Homo sapiens: one gene and its partners. The gene in region 3 interacts genetically with the main gene of each other region. Each region holds a gene or a part of one and is shown on either strand. Other genes may lie near its edges. The genes, in order: RIN1, DDX19A and RB1.

Region 1 (3,750 bases), on a different chromosome or scaffold from region 3:
CGTGTTCTTCCACCCTGTGTCCCAGGTGGCTACTACCTGACCAGCCTCTCTGCCAGCCTGGCCCTGCTGAGTGGCCTGGGTCAGGCCCACACCCTCCCACTGAGCCCCGTGCAGGAGCTACGGCGCTCCCTCAGCCTCTGGGAGCAGCGCCGCCTGCCTGCCACCCACTGCTTCCAGGTAACAGGCCCTCCACCGTGTCCTCAGAGCCAGACGCCATCCCCGCCTTTCACCTTCCTGTCCTTGGTGAAGAGTCCAGACTCTGTAGACAGATCCTGGGTTCTAATCCTGGCTCTGCCACTGGGTTGTGGGGACTTGGGCGAGTTACTTAACTACTTCGTGCCTCAGTTTTCTCATCAGTAAAATGGGGTAATAGGACCTACCTCCTGGGGTTGAGGTGAAGATTAAATGAGTTAATGCAGGAGAGTGCTTGGGGCACAAATTACTCACTATCAAATCTTCATCTCAGGCTTGTGAGCGCCCCACTGGGCTGTCCTTGCACCTGCGGCTGTGGCCCACAAGCCGACCCCTGGAGCACATAGAGCTTTTGCCGCTTGGTTCTCCCACTGGATCTCCACCTACCCACCCTGTCCCTGCACAGCCCAGAAAGCTGATGTCTCAGCTTTGGAGCCAGATGCATGCCAGCCGGGGCTGAGTACTTGTTTTTGCTTCTCCTCCTGCATAGCACCTCCTCCGAGTAGCCTATCAGGATCCCAGCAGTGGCTGCACCTCCAAGACCCTGGCCGTGCCCCCAGAAGCCTCGATTGCCACCCTGAACCAGCTCTGTGCCACCAAGTTCCGAGTGACCCAGCCCAACACTTTTGGCCTCTTCCTGTACAAGGAGCAGGGCTACCACCGCCTGCCCCCTGGGGCCCTGGCCCACAGGCTGCCCACCACTGGCTACCTCGTCTACCGCCGGGCGGAGTGGCCTGAGACCCAGGGGGCTGTGACAGAGGAGGAGGGCAGTGGGCAGTCAGAGGCAAGAAGCAGAGGGGAGGAGCAAGGGTGCCAGGGAGATGGGGATGCTGGGGTCAAAGCCAGCCCCAGGGACATTCGGGAACAGTCTGAGACAACTGCTGAAGGGGGCCAGGGTCAAGCCCAGGAAGGCCCTGCTCAGCCAGGGGAACCAGAGGCAGAGGGAAGCCGGGCAGCAGAGGAGTAGCTTGAAGTGGCCAGAAGGGTCATTCGGGGCGGGAGACCCTGAGCCTGCTGAGAAATCCTTTTAGCGCCAGCAAGCCCCACCCAGGGCCCTGTCCTGTGTCTGCCACCACCTTTGTCTGATACTTGTTTCCAGGGAAGCTGGGGGAACTGCCACATCTGAGGAACTGGAATAAAGATGAGGGGGCTTCGGGGGCCCCCAGACTGTGTGCCCAAGGCCCCTTGCCTCTTGTTCTTCTCCCCCAGCTGAGGGTGAGCCAGCCTGCAATGAGGGTGTGCCAAGTGGGGGCGAATCCGACAGATGCCCAACCTCTGACGTGGGGAGGGTGACGGTCTCAGCTCCTTTTACCCTTCCCCTCATGGGCATGGCTGAGGCAGGGCTCCACCCAAGTATCTCCCACCAGGCTGGGACTTCCAGACCCTAAAAGGTTCCAATGGCTCTTAGGTGTCAGGAGGATTTAGAGAGGCCACAGAACAGCAGCAAAGGCTTGGGGCCCACCCCTGTCCTGGACACCAGAAGGACCTGCACCTGCAAGCCTCAGTACTCTCATCTGTAAAGTGGGGACACTATTGCTGCCCTGCTCGGCTCCCAGAAGTGTCCCAGTGATCAAAATGGGTGATTTTGCTACAAGCAGAGCTCATGGCAGAAAGGGAGGGAGAGAGCTGGGCTGCTAACTCTCTCCCGGAGTCCGCTCTCTGCCAGACAGGGCTCCCACCTGCTGATGCCCAGTTCAGGGAGGTTATTCCCCTGGAAATCAGGCCCTGGGGAGAAAGTACCCAAGTTACAGTCTCTCCCCAAGATTTGGAGTCCTCCCAGGCCCTCCAGCATCTCTGGGGAGATCCACCAGCTGGCAGATAAGCTTCCAGAATGGAGAGGGGGCTCAGAAACCATGCTCTCTGCACTAAACTCTTGGCCCTCACAAAAGCTTTACTTGGCCATGACTTGTTGGGCCCACTGAGGGTCAGGAAAGTGACTCCCAGGATGTCATATAGCAAGTCCTTAAGGGTTCCCCCGCCCAAACCAGGGCATCAGGTTCCAACTCCACCCTCCATTCTAAGCCACCCACAAAGGCCGGGGCAGCCCCCAAGGAAGCCCAGAGCAGGCAGCAAATCCAAACAAGGAAAAGTGCCGACCACCAACCACGAGGGGGTGTGCACGGCCCGGGAATCTGCCGAGAGGGTGACCACCCAGGGGTGAGGGCGCCTCCAAGGCTGCAGCAGCAGAGGGGGTCCCGGGCCTTGCAGTCCAGCAGCATCAGGCAACCTGGGGACAGCGCAGGGGCCAAGGCCACTGGCCCCCAGGTCCCTTAGATTCTGGGGTCTGGGTAAGGCCAGCCTCTTGGGGGCCATCCCCAGGAAGGAAGGAATTGTCCCCTTATGGAGGATGACCCCAGAGGCTCTCTCCTCGGGCACTGAGCACAGAGGGGACGTCAGCCCAAATGTCAGACATGACAACTGGGAGGTAGAAATCGTGGACATTGGCTTTTTGGGTTTTTTTGTTTGTTTGTTTGTTTGAGATGGAGTTTTGCTCTGTCGCTCTGGCTAAAGTGCAGTGGTGCCATCTCGGCTCACAGCAACCTTCGCCTCCCAGTTCAAGTGATTCTCCTGCCTCAGCCTCCCGAGTAGCTGGGACTACAGGTGTGCACCACCACACCTGGCTAATTTTTGTGTTACTAGTAGAGACGGGGTTTCCCCATGTTGGCCAGGCTGGTCTCAAACTCCCGACCTCAGGTGATCCGCCCGCCTTGGCCTCCCAAAGTACTGGGATTACAGGCGTGAGCTACCACACCCAGCCAGACATTGACTTTCAGATGAGCAGTCCAGATACAGCCCAGTTGCACGGCTCCCATTTTTTTTGTCACTAGGCCACCAGCAGCTCTTCCCTCCCCACTTCCACGCCCTCCCAAGGTTCTCGCTGATAGGAAGTGTCCCGTTGGCTCTTCTATTCCCCTCCCTGTTTCACCACTCACCCCTAGTGCCTCACACAGTCCAATGCTGAGCACAAATGCCATAGGTGTTCAATAAATGTTGTTCACTGATTGGAGTTTGATAACCAGGAGTGAGGGACAGTGAGGCAGAAACCTGGGGAGTATAAGGGAGGACTCGGTTCTGGGAATCAAACACGGGATGTGTCAAGCTCAGTCCCAGAGGAAGGACCTGGAATGTTTGTAGAGGGTGCTCGGAGGATCCCAGGGGCCGGATGTACAACTGGCCTCATGGGAATGAGGCTCTGGGGCCTCTACAAGCCCTTCCCACCCTTGCCAGGCTCAGCATGACCTGACCCCCTCCCTGCCCTCCCCAGTGATGGGGCACCACAGGGAGCTGCTGCCTGGGTCTTGTGGTTTTTCTTCTCAAGAAACTCTGGGCTGGGCCTGGTGGCTCACGCCTGTAATCCCAACACTTTGGGAGGCCGAGGCCGGTGGATCACCTGAGGTCAGGAGTTCAAGACCAGCCTGGCCAGCATGGTGAAACCCCGTCTCTACTAAAAATACAAAAATTAGCCAGGCGTCGTGGCACACACCTGTAGTCCCAGCTACTGGGGAGGCTGAGGCAAGAGAATCACTTGAACCCGGGAGGCAGAGGTTGCAGTGACCC
Region 2 (3,750 bases), on a different chromosome or scaffold from region 3:
CTCCCACAACAGGTACTTACCAAGATGTTTCCTTATTTTAAATTCAGAACAGCCAAACCTGAACTCACCATTCCCTTTTTTCTTTTTTTGAAACAGGGTCTCACCGTCACCCATGCTGGAGTGCAGTGGTGTGATCACAGCTCACTGCAGCCTCAACCTCCCTAGGCTCAGGTGATCCTCCCACCTCAGCATCCTGAGTAACTGGGACTACAGGAGTGTACCACCACCCCGCCCAGCTAATTTTTTTTGTATTTTTGTAGAAATGGGGTTTCGCCATGTTGCCCACACTGGTCTTGAACTCCTGGGTTCAACTGATCTGCCTGTCTCAGTTTCCCAAAGTGCTAGGATTACAGGTGTGAGCCACTGTGCCCAGCCTTCACCTCTTTTTTTTTTTTTTTTTTTTTTTGAGACAGAGTCTCACTCAGTAGCCCAGGCTGGAGTGCAGTGGCGTAATTTTGGCTCACTGCAACCTCCACCTCCCAGGTTCAAGCAATTCTCATGCCTCAGCCTCCTGAGTAGCTGGTATTAACAGGGGACGACTACCACGCCTGGCTAACTTTTGTATTTTTAGTAGAGACAGGGTTTCACTATGTTGGCCAGGCTGGTATCAAACTCTTGACCTCGAGTGATCTGCCCGCCTCGGCCTCCCAAAGTGCTGGGATCACAGGTGGGTGCCATCATGCCCGGCTGCCTTCACCATTCTATCAAATCTGCCCTTCCTCCCACTTTCCTATTCCTGTTATTGGGACGTTAGTAGTACCAATAGGATCCAGGTTGAAAACAGAAACCTTTGGCTTTATCTCCCTTCTCTCCTTTATTATGTTAGCAAGTCCTACCCATTCTACCTTCATATCTTATACCCATCCCTTAATTTTCACTTCCACTGCCCAACATAGGCCCTCTATCTCGGGGCTATCAGAATAACTTCTACACTGATATTTCTATTAGCCATCACTTCTAACATATTCTGTTCTCTGTAGTTCAATAAATCCTTGCCAGCCTTGTCTAATTCTGTCAATAGCCCTCTCAAAAATCCCCATACCGGCTGGGCGCGGTGACTCACGGCTGTAATCCCAGCACTTTGGGAGGCCGAGGTGGGCGGATCACTTGAGGTCGGGAGTTCGAGACCAGCCTGACCAACATGGAGAAACCCCGTCTCTACAAAAAATACAAAATTAGCCGGGCGTGGTGGCGCATGCCTGTAATCCCAGCTACTCGGGAGACTGAGGCAGGAGAATCGCTTGAACCCGGGAGGCGGAGGTTGCGGTGAGCCGAGATGGCGCCATTGCACTCCAGCCTGGGCAACAAGAGCAAAACTCTGCCTCAAAAGAGAAACAACTACAACAAAAAAAAAGACAGTCCATTATCACTAAACAAACCTAAAGTTTAGGTCTTAGATATAAGAACAGAAAGCCACAGTGTATGCTGTAATTACATTCCAGTTGAATGAATATTCATTACTGAAAGAACAAGTACATGAAACCGTTACTTTACACATCAATGAAACAATTTGTAGTGCCTCCTTCCAACATCTGCAGTAGATTGAGGTATTAAATCCAAAAGTCAATCTGTTATTCTGCAAAGAGCTACAAACTACCAACCACGTTAAGCATGGATCTAAGAAATGTTAAATACAGAGTAGTACAGAAACATGCGAAGAACAGTCGCGTAATGAAAAAGAGAATCAGAATCTAAACTTGGCTTTCCTTATAATCGTCACCGAGGAGGTCAATAGAGGAATGACAGCATGCATAGTGGGGCGGATTTACCAAAGGATGAAGTCCTTAACCAGCCCAGATGGAGATAAAAAGCTCGACATTGGTCTCTTTAGCTCTAAGAGCAAATCAAGGGCAAGTGACTGCCCTAGCAAACTGCAGGAGCGCGTTGCCCAGGGGCCTCCCCAACCCGGGGAGCTCCCTGTGCTTTTGGGAGGTTTCGCTTGGGCCCCTGCTACGTCCTCCTCGCCAGGAGCTGAGCTACTGACCGACTTGACAGCCGCTTCCTGCTCGTCCACCGCCAGGGCCCACGAGTCGGTGGCCATAGTCCCGGACAAGGGAGACCCACTTGTGAAAATATGCGCTGCACCACGTCGCAACGCGGGCCCTAACCTCGCCACCGGCGCGAGAATGCACCTCACGCGGACCGGAAGCGGCGGTGAGCACAGGTGACGTCAGTTCCCACCCAGCGTGCGACATCATCATTCTGCGCGGCGCCAGGTCTCTCCTCGGGCCTCGCCTTTCCCTTCGTGCGCAAACCTCGCGCTTTTTGCTCACCCTTCCAGGACGCGGCCTCCTCGCTTCTTAAAATGTCTGAGCTCTACGAAGTGGAACTGTTAGCCCTCCGTTTATTGCCTTACTTCACACTGAAATAAGCCAACGTTTATTTTATTTTATTTATTTTATTATTTATTTTATTATTTTTTTTCGAGACGGAGTCTCGCTCTGTCCCAGGCTGGAGTGCCGTGGCGGGATCTCGACTCACTGCAACCTCCGCCTCCGTGTTCAAGCTATTCTACCTCAGCCTCCCGAGTAGCTGGGATTACAGGTGCCCGCCACCACGCCCGGCTAATTTTTGTATTTTTAGTAGAGATGGGGTTTCACCATGTTGGCCAGGCTGATCTCGAACTGCTGACCTTGTGATCCTCCCGCCTCAGCCTCCCAAAGTGTTGGGATTACAGGCGTGAGCCACCGCGCCCGGCCCCCAACGTTTCTTTTTAAGCCTGTCATATCTCACATTAAATGTGTAAGTCTCTGAACTGTAGGGCTTTGAACAAAGGAAAGTTCCATGAGAATACTATATGATGCCAATTTCTACTGTTAGGAACGCGATAACAGGTAAGAAAACAAAAACCAAAACGCAACAGAAGACCCGTAAACCCCATAATTCCACCATCCAATAAACACAACACACAATGCGTTTTTTCGTTTCTTTTTTGAGTCAGGGTCTCATTGTGTCGCCCAGGCTGGAATGCAGTGGTGTGATCTCGGCTCACTGCACCCTTGACCTCCCACCTCAGCCTCCCAGGTAGCTGGGCCCACAGGCCCGCACCACCACTCCTGGCTAGTTTTTAAACTTTTTGCAGAGACGGAAGTCTTCATTATATTGCTCAGGCTGCTTTTGATCTCCTGCTAACTCCAGAGATCCTCCTGCCTTGGCCTCTCAAAGTGTTGGGATTACAGGCATGAGCCACCACACCTGGCCATTATGTTGAAGGACCACCAAATACATAATGTATAATCTATTTATATGAGATTCAAGAATAGGACAAATAAAATCTATGCTGATAAAAACTAACAGAGCTTACCTGTGGAGAAGGATGTTTGGTCCAGACACAAGAGAACTTCCTGGGTGATAGAATTATTCTGTATCTTGATTGGGACCTGGTTACATAGATGTGTAAATTTGTTAAGTCATGCTACTTTGTATTTCTAAACTCATGGAACCATTATTTACAGATATCACCCAGGCTGGAGTGCAGTGGCCGGGTCTTGGCTCACTGCAACCTCTGCTTCCTGGATTCAAGCGGTTCTCCTGCCTCAGCCTCCCAAGTAGCTGGGATTACAGGCACACGCCACCACGCCCAGATAATGTTTGTATTTTTAGTAGAGATGGAGTTTCACCACGTTGGCTAGGCTGGCCTTGAACTCCTGAGCTCAAGGATCTGCCTGCCTGGGCCGCCCAAAGTGCTGGGATTACAGGTGTGAGCCACAGTGCTGACCTGCTTTTTCTTTTTTATAAGCAGTTCCCAAG
Region 3 (3,650 bases):
TTGAGGTTTGGCCTGAGAATTTAACCTTCATTTATATAATAATATCTAAGGGAGAATGTGATACAGTGTGTTCTAAGAAGCAAATGTAATGACAGAATAAATGTGTTTCCAGTGCAGCTATTCTAGTGGCAGTTGTCTCTCTTCTTTGAAACAAGAGGAGGAATATTGTCAAAAAGGAAACCCTTTTTAACAATAGAAAGTAGGTGATGTTTATTGGGATAGAGGATGGGTTAAGAGCAAGGATTAAGAGTCAAACAGATATACCATGTCCGAACTCCATTATCTTGAACATGTTATCTACAATTTTCAAGCCTTAGTTTTCTTACCTGTAAAAGGGACTGACAGTAATTTCTGGATCTTGGAGTTATGTGCAGATTAAATAAATTAATGCATATAAAGCTCTTATTAGAGTCAATGAGTATGTATATTAGGTCTTGCAAACAGAATAATTTTACTTAAGAAATACCCCAGAAAATTTTATCATTGATGTATTTTTTTTTAGGAGAACTTAGGATATCAGTTAAAATGGTTACAATTTTAAATGCATTGTAGTGATTTTGATGTAGTAATGTTTGTTAAAATTCTTATTTTTAAGTACTTTAGCATCAGAAAAGTTGTTTATGCATACATGAAAGCATATATTAATCCCTTTAAAGGAAAAGTTTGTGGTATTTTGTCTAGAAAAGTGTTTTCTTTTTTTAAAATAAATATTTAGTAAAGTGTAATAATAAAGATTAGCTTTGTTCATAAGGTTAGATTGTATTTATGCTGATTATAGCATATGAATAGGACTTTCCATTAAGAAATTGGCTAAGGTGATGTTCATATTGTGACTTAAGGTGAATCAGCTGTTAGAATTTTGGTTTACTTTCTGCATCTTGATTGGTAGTATGGTAGAATGGAAAATGCCTTGGACCTCAAGGCAGGAAACTTTGGTTGTAATTATATTGTAGCTATATGATTTTAGGCAAATTGGTTAATTCTGTGAGTCTCAGTTTGCTCACCTGTAAGGCAGAAATAATGCCTGAATGTGAACCTCATAGGCTTTTTGTTATACATACATATATATGTATATGAAATGTATGATATACATATCTCAAAGAGCTTTGGGATATATTGCTCTTGATAGAACCACTTACTTATTTTTGTGATATGGTGGTTATATTTTAAATAAATACAGTCATGTGTTGCTTAACAATGGGAACACATCTGAGAAATGCATCATTAGGTGATTTCATCGTTGTGTGAACATCATAGCATGTACTTACACAAACCTGGATGGTATAGCCTATGACACACCTATGCTGTGTGGTATATAGCATGTTGCTCCTAGTCTGCAAATGTGTACAGCATGTTACTGTACTGAACATTGTAGGCAATTGTAACACAATGGTAAGTATTTGTATATCTATACATAGAAAAGGTACAGTAGATCATCCATATCCTTACTGATTTTCTTTCTATGTGTTTTACTAATTATTGAGGGAGAAATATGAAGCCTCCAACTATAATTAGAATGGTCCTTTTAAATTCTGTTTTTTATTAATGTATTTTTTATTTTATTTTATTTTGAGATGGAGTCTTGCTCTGTCACCCAGGCTGGAGTGCGTGGCACGATCTCGGCTCACTGCAACCTCTGCCTCCCGGGTCCAAGCGATTCTCCTGTCTCAGCCTCCCGAGTAGCTGGGATTATAGGCATGCGCCACCACACCCGGCTAATTTTTGTATTTTTAGTAGAGACGGGGTTTCACCGTGTTAGTCAGGCTGGTCTCGAACTCCTGACCTCATGATCTGCCCTCGGCCTCCCAAAGTGCTGGCATTACAGGCGTGAGCCACTGTGCCTGGCCTTTATTAGTGTATTTTAAAGCTTTATCCTTGGGTACATACAAGTTTAGAATTTTTATGCCTTTTAGGTAAATTGGTACCTTTATCATTATGTAATGTGCTTTTTTATCCAAATTTATATCTTTTGTTCTGCAGTGTCCACATATCGATTCCACTTTTCTTGTGATCACTCTTTACAATGTGTATCGTTTACCTTCATTTTGATTTTAACCTATTTCTTTTTTATATTTAAATGGATTTTTGTTGTTTTGTAATCAGCATTCATTAAAAATTTTTAGCTGAATACTTTTTACTTTTGTTAGGGTTCCCTGTGTCTCTTCCTTTCATGTTGTGCCACAGATGAGCCATTATTTATATCTTTTCTCTCATTGGAGGTTCCTTTTTTTAGGGGAAATTAAATAATCTGAAATATAAGGAAAGGATATGTTGATTTCAAGAAAGGTTGTTTTTGTTCCTTATCTGGCTTGTTCTTGTTGTGAGGGTGGGAGCAATACTCTTTGCAGCTTTCTGCATTCTAGGAAGAAGTGGAATTTTACACTACCATTTGCTTTCTTTACAGGTTTACCTTGGTATTCAGTGTCTGTCCATAGGACTAATTAAAACTATACCAGACTCCTTCTATTTTAAACCTATCCGTTCAGTCTCAAGTTATCTTTTTGCATTGCCTCTCACGTCTGTCCCTTCATTTCTTTTACCAGCAGTGCTTGGTTTTTACTGTTTGCTTTGGTTTTAATTTCCTTTTTATTTTTTTAATTTCAGAAGGTGGAAGCTTATGTCATTGACTTGAGCATTTTTTATGCATGTTTTAGTGCCTCTTTCTGACTAGTCTCTTCTTTTCTCCATCCAATCCATCCTGTGCCTGATTTTTAGAAAAGACTGGTGTACAGTTTGCCCCTTTTGCTTTAAAATTTATTTTTCATTGTTACAACCCACTCTCAGTAGCCTCCATTGTAACACCCTCCCATGCTCCCACCACCATTATGAAGAAGTAAAGTCCAAACTTTCTCAGTATTTGTAGTTCTTCATGGTCTGTGCTTTAACCTTCCTTCCAGTCTTATTTTTTATTTCCATTGTTGGCCCCCAATGCCTGTGTTCTCTTCCCTTCCATATGAATCTTCCATATGAATATCTTCCATATGAATATGATAGTATTCATATTCATGCGATCTCCCCTTTTTTTGGAATACCCTTCTTTTTTCTTTTAGCCTAAATTCTGTTTTTAAGATGCAGTTAAAGCTTCTCCTTTATGCATATCTCTTATAAGATATATTATTTGCAGACTTTTCCCCCCATTCTGTGAGTTGCCTTTTCACTTTCTTGATGATGTCATTTGCAGCGTAGGATTTTAATTTTGATGAAGTCCAGTTTTCTATTTTTTTTTTGGTGGTGGTTTTTTTTTTGGTTGCTTGGGCTTTTGATGTTGTATCTAAGAAGGCCTTGACTAACCCAAGGTCATGAAGACTTATTCTGTGCTTTCTTCTAAAAGTCATATGGTTTTTAGTTCTTGTCAGTCTTGGGTTTTTTTTTGTTTTTTTTTTTTGAGTTAATTTTTGTGTATGATGTGAGGAAGAGGTCTAACTCCAGTCTTTTGAATGTGGATATCCAGTTGTCTCTGCACCACTTATGGAAAAGACTATTCTTTCTTCATTGAATTGTTTTGGTGCCCTTGATGAAAATCAGTTGACTATAAAAACCAGGGTTTATTTCTGGAGTCTCAGTTCTATTCCATTGCTCTGTATGTTTATTCTTTTTTTTTTTTTTTTTTTTTGAGACGGAGTCTCGCTCTGTCGCCCAGGCTGGAGTGC

Evidence for each region.
Region 1: changes in RB1 (region 3) and RIN1 together harm fitness more than expected from each alone (negative genetic interaction), as found in Homo sapiens cells (one large-scale study listed by BioGRID).
Region 2: changes in RB1 (region 3) and DDX19A together harm fitness more than expected from each alone (negative genetic interaction), as found in Homo sapiens cells (one large-scale study listed by BioGRID).

What each region holds. Positions count from the first base shown.
Region 1 is NC_000011.10:66,329,685-66,333,434, reverse strand, and holds the end of RIN1 (ras and Rab interactor 1), read left to right. Parts: intron 1-25; coding exon 26-177; intron 178-682; coding exon 683-1,159; 3' UTR 1,160-3,194; downstream 3,195-3,750. UniProt on the Homo sapiens protein: Ras effector protein, which may serve as an inhibitory modulator of neuronal plasticity in aversive memory formation. Can affect Ras signaling at different levels. First, by competing with RAF1 protein for binding to activated Ras.
Region 2 is NC_000016.10:70,345,283-70,349,032, reverse strand, and holds the start of DDX19A (ATP-dependent RNA helicase DDX19A), read right to left. Parts: upstream 2,131-3,750; 5' UTR 2,042-2,130; coding exon 1,985-2,041; intron 1-1,984. UniProt on the Homo sapiens protein: ATP-dependent RNA helicase involved in mRNA export from the nucleus.
Region 3 is NC_000013.11:48,310,154-48,313,803, forward strand, and holds part of RB1 (retinoblastoma-associated protein), read left to right. Parts: intron 1-3,650. UniProt on the Homo sapiens protein: Tumor suppressor that is a key regulator of the G1/S transition of the cell cycle. The hypophosphorylated form binds transcription regulators of the E2F family, preventing transcription of E2F-responsive genes.